Homo sapiens: one gene and its partners. The protein of the gene in region 3 purifies or fractionates together with the protein of the main gene of each other region. This does not show direct contact. Each region holds a gene or a part of one and is shown on either strand. Other genes may lie near its edges.

The links.
Region 1: the proteins of KCNA2 (region 3) and SARAF purify together in Homo sapiens (co-immunoprecipitation; 2 studies listed by BioGRID and IntAct, with this or other methods). This does not show direct contact.
Region 2: the proteins of KCNA2 (region 3) and CYP51A1 purify together in Homo sapiens (co-immunoprecipitation; 2 studies listed by BioGRID and IntAct, with this or other methods). This does not show direct contact.

What each region holds. Positions count from the first base shown.
Region 1 is NC_000008.11:30,076,392-30,080,210, forward strand, and holds part of SARAF (store-operated calcium entry-associated regulatory factor isoform 1 precursor), read right to left. Parts: intron 1-3,819. UniProt on the Homo sapiens protein: Negative regulator of store-operated Ca(2+) entry (SOCE) involved in protecting cells from Ca(2+) overfilling.
Region 2 is NC_000007.14:92,132,409-92,136,227, forward strand, and holds the start of CYP51A1 (lanosterol 14-alpha demethylase), read right to left. Parts: upstream 2,070-3,819; 5' UTR 1,957-2,069; coding exon 1,765-1,956; intron 1-1,764. UniProt on the Homo sapiens protein: Sterol 14alpha-demethylase that plays a critical role in the cholesterol biosynthesis pathway, being cholesterol the major sterol component in mammalian membranes as well as a precursor for bile acid and steroid hormone synthesis.
Region 3 is NC_000001.11:110,604,404-110,608,003, forward strand, and holds the start of KCNA2 (potassium voltage-gated channel subfamily A member 2), read right to left. Parts: upstream 1,956-3,600; 5' UTR 1,825-1,955; intron 1,320-1,824; 5' UTR 988-1,319; intron 543-987; 5' UTR 380-542; coding exon 1-379. UniProt on the Homo sapiens protein: Voltage-gated potassium channel that mediates transmembrane potassium transport in excitable membranes, primarily in the brain and the central nervous system, but also in the cardiovascular system.

The DNA of each region.
Region 1 (3,819 bases), on a different chromosome or scaffold from region 3:
TACCTAAATACACTGACATCAGGAACTTCCTCCAAAAAAGAGCAACCTAGGTCACCCTGTTGTGAAGTTCAAAATCAAAAGTGCAACTGCACACTGATAGCTTCCAATGAGCTTTTTGGTTCCCCAGAATTAACCATGAGCAGGGAGCCAAGGATTACTAAAAATATGAGGAAAGTCCCTGCTATGGTTTGAATGTGTCCCCCAAAGTTCACATGTTGGAAACTTAATCCCCAATGCAACAGTGTTGAAAGATGGAATCTTTAAGAGGGCTCTGCCCTCATGAATAGATTAATGCTGTTCTTGCAGGACTGGGTTAGTTATCGCAGGAGTGGACTCCTGATAAAAGGATGAGTTAGGCCCCTTTCCCCTCTCTCACTCTCTCCCTTCTGCCTTCCACCATGGGATGACACAGCAAGAAGGCCCTCACCAGATGCTAGCACCTTAATATTGAACTTCTCAGCCTCCAGAACTGTGAGAAATGAATTCAGTTTTTTAATAAATTTCCCAGTCTGTGGTATTGTGTTACAGTAACATTAAACAGACAAAACAGCCCCTAACATGAAATACAGCAACCAGGACAAAACAACAACAAAAGGAAGCAGGAGGAAAAAAGAGATGACGCACAAGAAGAAAACTTTTTTAAAAACACTGTAATATCCTCAGAGAGATAAGAGAAAAAGACTGCGTTAATAAAACAATCATTTTTAAAAGGGATACTCAGAGAAAAAACAAGAGCTTTTGGAAATTAAAAACAGGACAGCCAAGATTAAAAACAACAGAACTGCCAGGTGCAGTGGCTCATGCCTGTAATCCCAGCACTTTGGGAGGCCAAGGCAAGCAGATCACTTGAGCCCAAGAGTTTAAGACCAGCCTAAGCAACATGGCAAAACCCTGTCTCTACAAAAAAAATTATAACATTAGCCAGGTATGGTGGCACACACCTGCAGTCCCAGCTACTTAGAAGGCTGAGGTGGGAGAATCACCTGAGCCTGGGGAGGTCGAGGCTGCAGTGAGCCATGCACTCCAGCCTGGGTGATAGAGTGAGACCCTGTCACAAAACATAAATAAATAAATACATACATACGACAGAACTGTTAAAAGAAAATCTTCTAGAAAGTAGAGCAAAAAGAGGCCGGGCGTGGTGGCTCATGCCTGTAATCCTAGCACTTTGGGAGGCCGAGGCAGGTGGATCACGAGGTCAAGAGATCAAGACCATCCTGGCGAACACGGTGAAACCCCGGCTCTACTAAAAATACAAAAATTAGCTGGGGATGGTGGCGCGTGCCTGTAGTCCCAGCTACTCGGGGGGCTGAGGCAGGAGAATTGCTTAAACCCAGGAAGCAGAGGTTGCAGTGAGCCAAGATTGTGCCACTGCACTCCAGCCTGGCGATAGAGCAAGGCTCCATCTGAAAAAAAAAGGAAAAAGAAAAAAGAAAGTAGAGCAAAAAGATAGAAAGTAGGAGAGAAAGGCTGGGCACAGTGGCTCACGTGTGTAATCCCAGCACTTTGGGTGGCCGAGGCAGGCAGATCACAAGGTCAGGAGTTCGAGACCAGTCTGGCAAATATGGTGAAACCCCGTCTCTACTAAAAATACAAAAATTAGCCAGGCATGGTGGCGGGCACCTGTAATCCCAGCTACTCAGGAAGATGAGACAGGAGAATCGCTTGAACCCGGGAAGCAGAGGTTGCAGCGAGCCGAGATGGTGCCACTGCACTCCAGCCTGGGGGACAGAGCTAGACTCCGTCTCAAAAAAAAAAAAAAGAAAGAAAGAAAAAAGACAGTAGGAGGAAAAAAAAAAAAAAGAAAGAAAGAAAATTACCAGTTCAGGACCAGTTCAGAAAGTCCAAAAATCCAACAAGGGCTTCTGAAAGAATGAACAAGGGAATCTGATTAGACAAACTCCAGGCTGTAATTCAAGAAAAGTTCCCACACTGAAGGACTTGAGTTGTCATACTGAAAGGGCCCAACAAATACCCAGGCCTGAGAAACAGACCACACAAAGGCACACGAAAAGTAAATTTTAGAACACTGAAGACAAAAAAAGATTCTACAAATTGCCAGAAGAATAGGGAGAAAACAAGCCATATAGAAAAGATAAGACTTAGAAAAGCTTCAGGTATCTCAACAGGATAGAAAAAGAAAATGGAGAAATATATTCAAAAACTCTAAAGGAAAAAGTCTGGCTGGGTTTGCCAACCATCGCTTTGCTAATGGTGGAACAAACTGATGTTACAACATCTCCTATGATGTATTTCCCACAAGTATTTAATATGAATCTAATCAATCTAATAAACTTAAGGTCAATACCCTATCTATATAAAAAATATATATAGAGAGAGAGACCTAAATATACTTCCAACCAGGAACCCAATAGGGTTTTTTGGGGAAAGAAATTATGTTAAAGGTCCTGTGGACAATTTTTTTTTGAAAAAGAACACATAGGTTACCAGATAGTAAAGGTTACTATAAAATTATTATCATCAGCCAGGCACGGTGGCTCACGTCTGTAACCCCAGCACTTTGGGAGGCCAAGGAGGGCAGATCACCTAAGGTCAGGAGTTCGAGATCAGCCTGGACAACATGGTGAAACCCCATCTCTACTAATAATACAAAAATTAGCTGGACGTGGTGGCATACGCCCGTAGTCCCAGCTACTTGGGAGGCTGAGGCAGGAGAATCACTTGAATCCAGGAGGTGGAGGTTGCAGTGAGCTGATATTGCTACCACTGCACTCCAGCCTGGGCGACAAGAGTGAAACTCCATCTCAAAAAAAAAAAAAAAAAAAAAGATTATAATCAAAATAGTAGGGAATTGGAACAGAGACAAGGAAATTGTGAAACAAAAGAAAGATCAGAAATAAATCAAGATACATTTGGGAATTCAGTAAGATGAAGTGGTCTTTTTAATTTAGTGGATAAAAGATGTCTTCTTTAATAAATAGCACTGGCATAATTGACTATGCAGCCACAAGAAAATCCACCTAAAGCTATATAAAAATTTAATTCCACATGGGCTACAGATCTAAAATTTCCAAGAACTATATTCAAATAAACCATGCTACATTAAACACAAACTACTACCTCCTCATACATAAAAAATAAGACAATGAAAATGTTCAATGGTTTAGAAAAATCAGACTGTATTAATCAACTAAATAACAGAAATAATAAATTGAATTTATTGTAACAGAGTTGCAATAATGCAAAGAACACTGAACTAAGTTGGTGTCACTAACTGGCTGTGACTTTGGCCAAGGCATTTAATTTACCTGTGTAGAAGTTTCCTCACCTACAAAATTAAAATATTATCAACCTTGAAATTTGTTGTGAAGCTTAGATATAATTTATTATCTGGCTGAGTACTTGAAGCATAACAGGTGATCAGGTATGATAAATATTACTGAAAGTTTTAAGATGGAATAGCATTACCATAATCCTATAGCATCTTTCTTCCCTAGAGATTCTTAAGGTCCAAGAACAAAATTCTAATACCCACGCCCCACTAGTTAGATCAGTCAAGGGACACAGGAGCTCCCTGAACTCCAGACTCATAAATCAAAATCACGGCAGGTCTCAAACAAGATAAACAAAACCAAACTCCCCTAAACCTGATCATCCCACATTCTTCCACATCTCAGGAAATGGTTAACTCCATGCTTCTAGTTGCTCAAGCCAAAAACCTTGGACTTCTCATCTTCTCTCCTCTCACTCCTACATCTGATCCTTCAGAAGATCATGTTAGCTCCACCTTCCAAACAGGTGACAAGAGAATCCAGCTACTCTAACCAGCTCTCTACTGCTCCTGCCCTGGGCCAAGCG
Region 2 (3,819 bases), on a different chromosome or scaffold from region 3:
CTATATAAACTGTTATTAAACTGTGTTTTTTTATTTGTATTATTTTTTATTGTTGTGTTATTTTGTATTGGGTTTTTTTCCCCTGGGTATTTTAGATCTACACTTGGCTGAATTCCCAAATGTGGAATTCGTGTCCCCAGAGGGCCCACTATATTGTTTCTTCACTACTTACTACTACTACTACTCACAATTTTAGTCCCAGATACTTGCTTAAAGAAGGTATAGAAAAAGACAAGCAGTAACTTGTAGTATAGAAAGAAGGGAAATGTTTAAGAAGCTATATTTACTTCTCAGTAAACAATCAATCTCATGCTTCTCTCACTGCAAGTGAACTAGAGCCACTGATTTTAGAGTTTTTAAGAGAGTAGATCAGCTCTAGCAAGAACTCTAGCATTCTTCATAAAAGTTTCTTTAGATGCCACAAAATGAGACCTGCAGATTACAACATTAAGTATCCTGAAAATCAAACAAAATAATGAAAAAGGGTAATACTCCTCAATTCTCTGGTGGTCTCAAATAGAAAGGAGCACCACAACCTCACAGTACACCTCAGCTAATAGAACTATCTTTAAACACTAAAAGTAACTTTGTCTTCCCAGAGACAAATATCATTTCCTTAAAGATCCCATGTGTAGGAAAAAAATAAATAAATAAATAACTCTTTCTTATGCCTGGTATGGTTCAAACAAAAATTATTTTAAAAGCTACTTGGTCAAAAGTTTGTACATTGCATTGTCAGTAAAAGGGTAGTTTTCAAAAGCTACTTATTGCTGACTGTAAAAGGCACAATCAAATAACATTTGGGAGATTGAAAGCTAGGTTAATAAGGCTGTTAAATTGAAGAAAATGATTTTTTTTTTTTTTGAGACGGAGTCTCATTCTGTCGCCCAGACTGGAGTCCAGTGGCGCAATCTCGGTTTACTGCAACCTCCGCCTCCTAGGTTCAAGTGATTCTCGGGCCTCAGCTTCCCAAGCAGCTGGGACTACAGGCGTGTGCCACCACATCCAGCTAATTTTTGTTTTGTTTTGTTGTATTTTAGTAGAGATGGGGTTTCTCCATGTTGTTCAGGCTGGTCTGGAACTCCTGACCTCAGGTGATCCGCCCGCTTCGGCCTCCCGAAGTGCTGGGATTACAGGCGTGAGCCACTGCTCCCGGCCGAGAAACTGTTACATTATTAGCATCAGAGGAAGGCCCTTACCACACTCCAGTCACTACCATTACCACACTCTACACATCCTCCTTAATATGGGTATAAACCACCATTAGGGGCACTGCTACAGCCCACAGAACACTGAACCACACAGGGCAGCCTCCAGGATGACGGGCCAGCTGCCAACAGCATCTCCGTCAGGACCCCCACCAAGGGCCCCAACGACCACCGGGTCGTTCAAACCCACAGCCGCCAATCCAGCCACCGCCACTAGGGGCACCACTGCTGCGGTCAGTACAGACCGCTACAACCACAAATGCCGCAACCACGACCCCGTCTAGGATCAGATACACAGCCGGGGAGGCCAGCACCGCCCCCCAACACAAGGCAATGGCGGGTGCTACAGCCAGCGCCACCAGCAGCAGTGCCGCCGCCGCAGCCACTACTCCAGCCCCCAGCGCGCCTGCCACCAAAGCCACGCCAAGCATGGCCGCAGTCGCCCCCGCCCTTGCCATCCACTGAGCCGGTCGGGGCCACGGAGCCGCCCACGCCAGCCCTTCGGCCGCCTCAGCTGCGGCGCGCGCCCCACTCAGACCCTAAAGAATGTACGTACCACCCCTGCGGGCAGCTGGACCAGGTGGCCGGCGGCCAGACGGATCAGGTAGACCAGGCTGAGGGTGAAGGCGCAGGCGATCAGCAGCATGGACAAGAGGTTGCCGCCTGTCACCTTCTCCATCGCCTGGCCCAGCACCGACCCACCCGCCTGCAGCAAGCCCAGCAGCAGCATCCCAGCCGCCGCCGCCATTCACTCCGTCGGAAACACTGAAGGCCGAGGTCGCCACCGCTCCTCCCAATCGACGGAACGAGAGAAGCTGGCAGATGGTCGTCCACAGGGGGCCTTGCCCCAGGTCTCCTACTAAACCCAGCCCCACCCCTCGGGTCCCACGCGCGCCACCCCGTGCGTCACAGAATGGGGCGGGATGTTCCGCTGGCCACGCCCCTTAAATAACACTCTGTGAAGCCGTGGTCTTCTTGCGCGGGATAGGGCACCTGAGGAAGCGGGCTGCGCCTGTGGCACAGTGGTACGGGGCCGGAAGATAACTTACCTGAAGAGGCGATCAATCCCTGAGAATCGCGGGCGACCCGTTTTTTGTGTGCCCGGGTGCGGGGTGCCGGGACACGGCGTTGAAGGCGCTGAGCGGAGGGATCTCAGGGCGAGCTCGAGCGGCGACGGCGCGCTCTGTGATTGCACCGCGAGCGCCTGAGGTGATCTCGGCCTACATCGCGTCAGCGGGGCCTTGGGCGTGAGCACCGCCCCCTGTCCGGACGCAGGGTACTGGGGCACCTCGAACTGTGGCACCTCACCCTTCTCCGGGGCCACGTCTTGGGGACTCCGACAGCCCCAAATAAGCCCTCGGGGACTGGGGTTGTGAAAAGCGAGGTCGTGAAGACGCCGGCCTCATACCGAAGGGTAGGACGGTGAGGTCAGCCCCGTCCCACTCCAACTAAAATCAACCTGACAGGTATTAATATGCCACCATGAAGTTAACAAATGTTGGTGATTAAGTATGCTAGGTTTTACGAAAACAGATTTTCCAAAATAAATGTACATGTTTTAGGACGTCGCGAGCCGTTTGAGGCAGCATTCCCCAAGGACGCCACTTAGTCTGTAGGTTTAGCGGCTAGAAAGATTCAGAAGCTGAGTTCAGTCCTGCCGCCACAATCAATCTTCGCTCCTATGGCTTCACAGAAGCGTCTCCCATGACTACCAAATTTAACTCCTTCCAGATCACCCACGGGAGCACCTGACCGGATTCATTTATTTAATCAATGTTAAGAACTAGGTTTTGTGCTAAGCTAGGGGATAGAGCAGCGAATGAGACAAAACTGCAAGGCCCTGGGGGAATTAGTAGGAATATCCAGTGAAAGGGAAATTAATGAATTTTATAAGTATACTAATCAAGAAGTATATTCTTTTCCTTTGAGGTAGAATGTAATATAGCACCTCCCCTACCCAAGGCCTGGGTTAAGAGTATATTAACTGCTTATTTCTCCCCTATGCGTGGAGAGGCTTATCTGTGTTCCATCGTTTCACATTCCTTGAGGCACAGCGAGTTCTTGCTTCCCTCCCTAGCGCTGCTGTAAAGTCACAAAACTGATTAGCAAGTGTTACAAAAGCATGTATTCCCAAGGACGTAAGACATATGGTGTAACAAATGTAAGAGTAATTTACTGCCTTTGTTCTTGCTTCTGCAAGTACACTTCATGCAACACGTAACTCCCAACACAAACTGCTTAAAAGGTGATTGATCCCTTTGTTCGGGGCTCAGACTTTCTGGACCCTAGTCCGACTGAGCCGGTGATCACCTTAATAATAAAGGCTCTCCTGAACTCTGCTCGGTCTCTCCCGTCTATGATTTGTCCCGCAACACCAGTTGCCTGCGGAACACCTCTACCTAGAGAGCTAACACTCATCCCCGGTCAGTAAATCCAAAACTAAACCCGTTGCCTCCTCCTACCAACCTGTCCCTCCTATAATGCCTGTGAAGAAAAGGCATCACTGTGCACACTGTTGCCCTCTCCATGCTTCATCTAATCAGTCATCAGATCCTATAATTCTACCACCTTAAAAGTTTCACCGTTTCTTCCGTCCAGTCGCGGTGGCTCA
Region 3 (3,600 bases):
GAAACATCTCCATCGCTTCTTCTCCCAGCTCATAAAACCGAATTTCTTCAGAGAATATATCTAAGGGCACATTCACAGGTCGCCTCAATCGGCCCCCTGACTGGTAGTAGTACAAAATGGCATCAAAGCTAGGGCGGTTCCGATCGAAAAAGTACTCATTTCGGAGGGGGTCAAAGTACCTCATTCGTTTCTTTGGGTCCCCTAAGAGGGTCTCTGGAAACTGGGCTAAGGTCTTTAGCTGGGTCTCAAACCGCAGCCCTGAGATGTTGATCACCACCCTCTCACAGCACTCGTGGTCTGCCTCTGGGTCATAGGTGTCCTGTGGGTGCCCAGGGAGGGCAGCAGCCTCGTCTGCTGGGTCTCCGGTGGCCACTGTCATAATTGGGACTGAGAGAAGCACCTCACGCTATGCCTTTCAGCTGCCTGGTGGCAGGGAGCTCAGGGTGCTGCTACTGGCCCCAGGAAGCACAGGAGCATTGGCCTGGTCTCCTGCAGGAGAGCCCCGAGAGCTCTCTGAGAGCTGGAGAGACAGCCTCGCTTGGCTGAAAGACAGAGGCAGTTATTGACATGAGGCTACTCAGCATTGGCAGCCTGACCTGGGTTGCCACTTTTTGTCTCCCATCTCTCAGCCAAGAGTTCAGACACATGATCACCACCACCACAACGACAAAGCAAAATTTACTTTCACCTTGTAACTTGTCTGGGGATCAGGGGGAGCAGGTAGCAATCTCTCCAGGAACCTCTGGAATGCCCTGCATTGGGGGAAGGTGGCTGGTACAGGCCCGCTTGTAGCACACAGGCTTCATGGAGCATAACCCCATGCTAATAGGTTAAAAGTGGACCCTCTCCCAGGTGCTGCACTAATGTCTCAGATACTCATACCCAGGGAGGTATTCATGGTTGGGGAGCTTGGGCCTGGGTCTTTCTCATTGGCCTCCACCCCAGTGATTCTACACAAGGCTGTTATTAAATGATAGATTGATTTACCTGACCAGAGACGTGAAGCTCTCTTCCTTGCAGAGCTGATCAGATGCTGCAGGAATCTGAGATGCACCAACAGGCAGCCCAACTCCTCATCACGTCTTCTCACTCGAGCTAGAAATAATGGTGAGTCATTCTGGGCAGAAGGGCAGACTCTGGGTCCTGGAGGTGAGCTCTAGGATTGGGCTGGGCTGGAGGGGCGGTGAGGTGCCTGGCCAGGGGCATGCGGGACTTGAAGACAGCCGAGCATGGGCCTGGAGCCTTTTGAAGGAAGGAGGCAAGATGCAAAGCTCAGCAAAAGCTGGAGTCCTGGCTGTCCTCAGGAGGTGTGACGTTGCCTGGAAAAAAACAGCAGCAAGGTGGAACCAGGGCATTTGAACCAGCTGGTGCCAAGATTTAGGAGGGTCTGGCAGCTTCCCTCATGGGAGGTAACAGGCCCCCATGCCCATCCTCTATTCTGATGCCAGGCCTGAGGACTATCCCTCAGCCTCCTTGCCTCTTCTGGGCAGGCTTCCCATCAGCTTGAAGCATTTTCTCCCAGGGAGCAAGACTCAGGCTTGGCTGGGCCTGCCTTCTCCAGGGGCCTCCCTGGGTTGATCCAGGTTGCTAGTCCCCAGCTGCTCTCAGGAAGGACTCTGGAAGAAGCACTCCTACCCCCACATGTCAGGACACAGCAGCTCCCAAGAGGAGGGCTTAGCTCACTGCAGCCTGTCTACAAGCTCTGACCTCAGCCAGTCCTGGAAAAGAAGCACCCCACCCCCCAGCACACACACTCCTTCAGAGCGCATCTAGGGAGACCCCACACAACAAAGTCTGCACTGTACGAAAACTGGATGAACTTACTCTCCCTCCGGGATCCCTGGGCCGCAGGCCTCCCTCTGAGCCGGGTGGCATTTGAGCTGGGCAGGCGCTCGACCACTGATTTCTCCCCCAAGAGAAAATCCCTCACATCTCCTCGGCAGGGAGCACAGAATAAACGCTCCGCCTGCCTAGCTGCGAGGCGGCTTGGCAGCAGCGAGAGGGGGAGCCTGGAGGAAGCCGGCTTCCGGACTGGCCCCCTGCCGACCCAATCCCGCCGGCCCCAGGGCGGGGAGGGGTCTGGGCCCTCTCCCCATCGCCCCGGGCTCCGGCCGGGATTCCGTTCGGCGCACTCAGCGCTCGCCTCCGCGCAGAGGACCAGACCCTCCCGCTGGCCGCGGCCGCTAGCGCCACCTTAACCCCCTCCTGCCCGCGCGGTCGGCTCCTGCTGCGGGCCCAAGCGCAGTTCAGCTCTTAAGCCCCCGGCGTCCAGCCGAGGGACCGCCGAGGCTCAGTGTCCAACCCAAAATCCCGGAACCTGATCTCTGGGGGTGGGGAGTAGCCTGCGCCAGGCTGCCGCCCCAGATCTCAGCTTCCTTTTAAGCGCGGGGGCTCGGCGGCAGCCCACGGCCCCAGCGAAGGGGAAAGCCCTCTCTGCAGCAAAGCCGTTTGTTATTCTGTGCCGAAGAGGCGAATGCAGCCCGGCCGTCCCAAGTGGTTCAGGTCCTACCAACCCGCGCTATTTACCAGACATGGTTATGCTGCCAGCTGCACTTCCCACCACCCACCAGCTCCTCTCCGTGCCCTCCGCCCCGCGCCACGCAAACCCCAGAGGGTCCCGAGCCCATTCTGTGCACTCTTCTTGAGCAGGGTGCAAGTTCCCCTTGATCTCCCCGGTCTGGGACCTGCCGAGCAGACGGCAGTGGTCGGCAAGGGCTTGCCGCCGCGGACTCAGCCCAAGCCTGCTGCGCTGCAGGCTGCGCCGCCGGGTGCCCCGCAGCCCCTCTGGGCGCCGCAGCCGGGCAGGGAAGGCAGCACGCGCCGCGCAACGCCCCGACACGGATTTACCCTTCCGGATGGGCACCGGGGCCTCCATGTTCCTAGGTTACGGCCAGCGCCGGCAGAACCCCGGCAGCGGGCGGCGGCGGGGTGCGGGCGGCCAGCCGGGAGCCGGCTCTGCAGTCCCGCGGGCGGCGCGTACGGAGCTCCCGGCCGCCGCCCGCAGCCGCACCGCGCCACGCAGCGCCGCACCTGGCTCGACGGCGAACTCGAATTAAAGGGGCCGGCGGGGGCCGGGGCCGGGGCCGGGGCGACAAGCTGCCCTCCGCCGCCACCGAGCTCGTCACCTCGTTGGGCCCCCGGGCCTCAGCCCCCGCCCCGCGAGGAAAACATTCTTTGGCAGAGCCCGACTTACTAACCAGAACCTCCAGGAGAGCTCAGCTGGGTGCTGCCGGGCCGGGGAGATGGGGGAGGGCAGAAGTTGAGGGGCACTGGTGAGAGGCTCCTGCCAACGTAATGAAGTAGGCAAGGAGGAGATAATCAATAGCAGCTACCCCAGGCCCACAGCGGGATCCAGCCCCGGGAGAGACGTGTTGCTATTATTGTGGTGCCTCCAGACAGGATCTGCAGACCCCTTTCTTGCCCTTTCTCCCGCCAGCGCGACCCCTTCTCCAGATCGGCTTCCCACCTCCCTGTTACCCAGCAAAGATTTGGCTTCGCAGGGAAATGCAGCAGGTGCGGTCCGCAGTGTGGCAGAAACTCTTCTGCTGTGTTCGCCCCCACCGAGAGGAGCCGCAGGAACAGGCAGCACTGCAGGGCTGG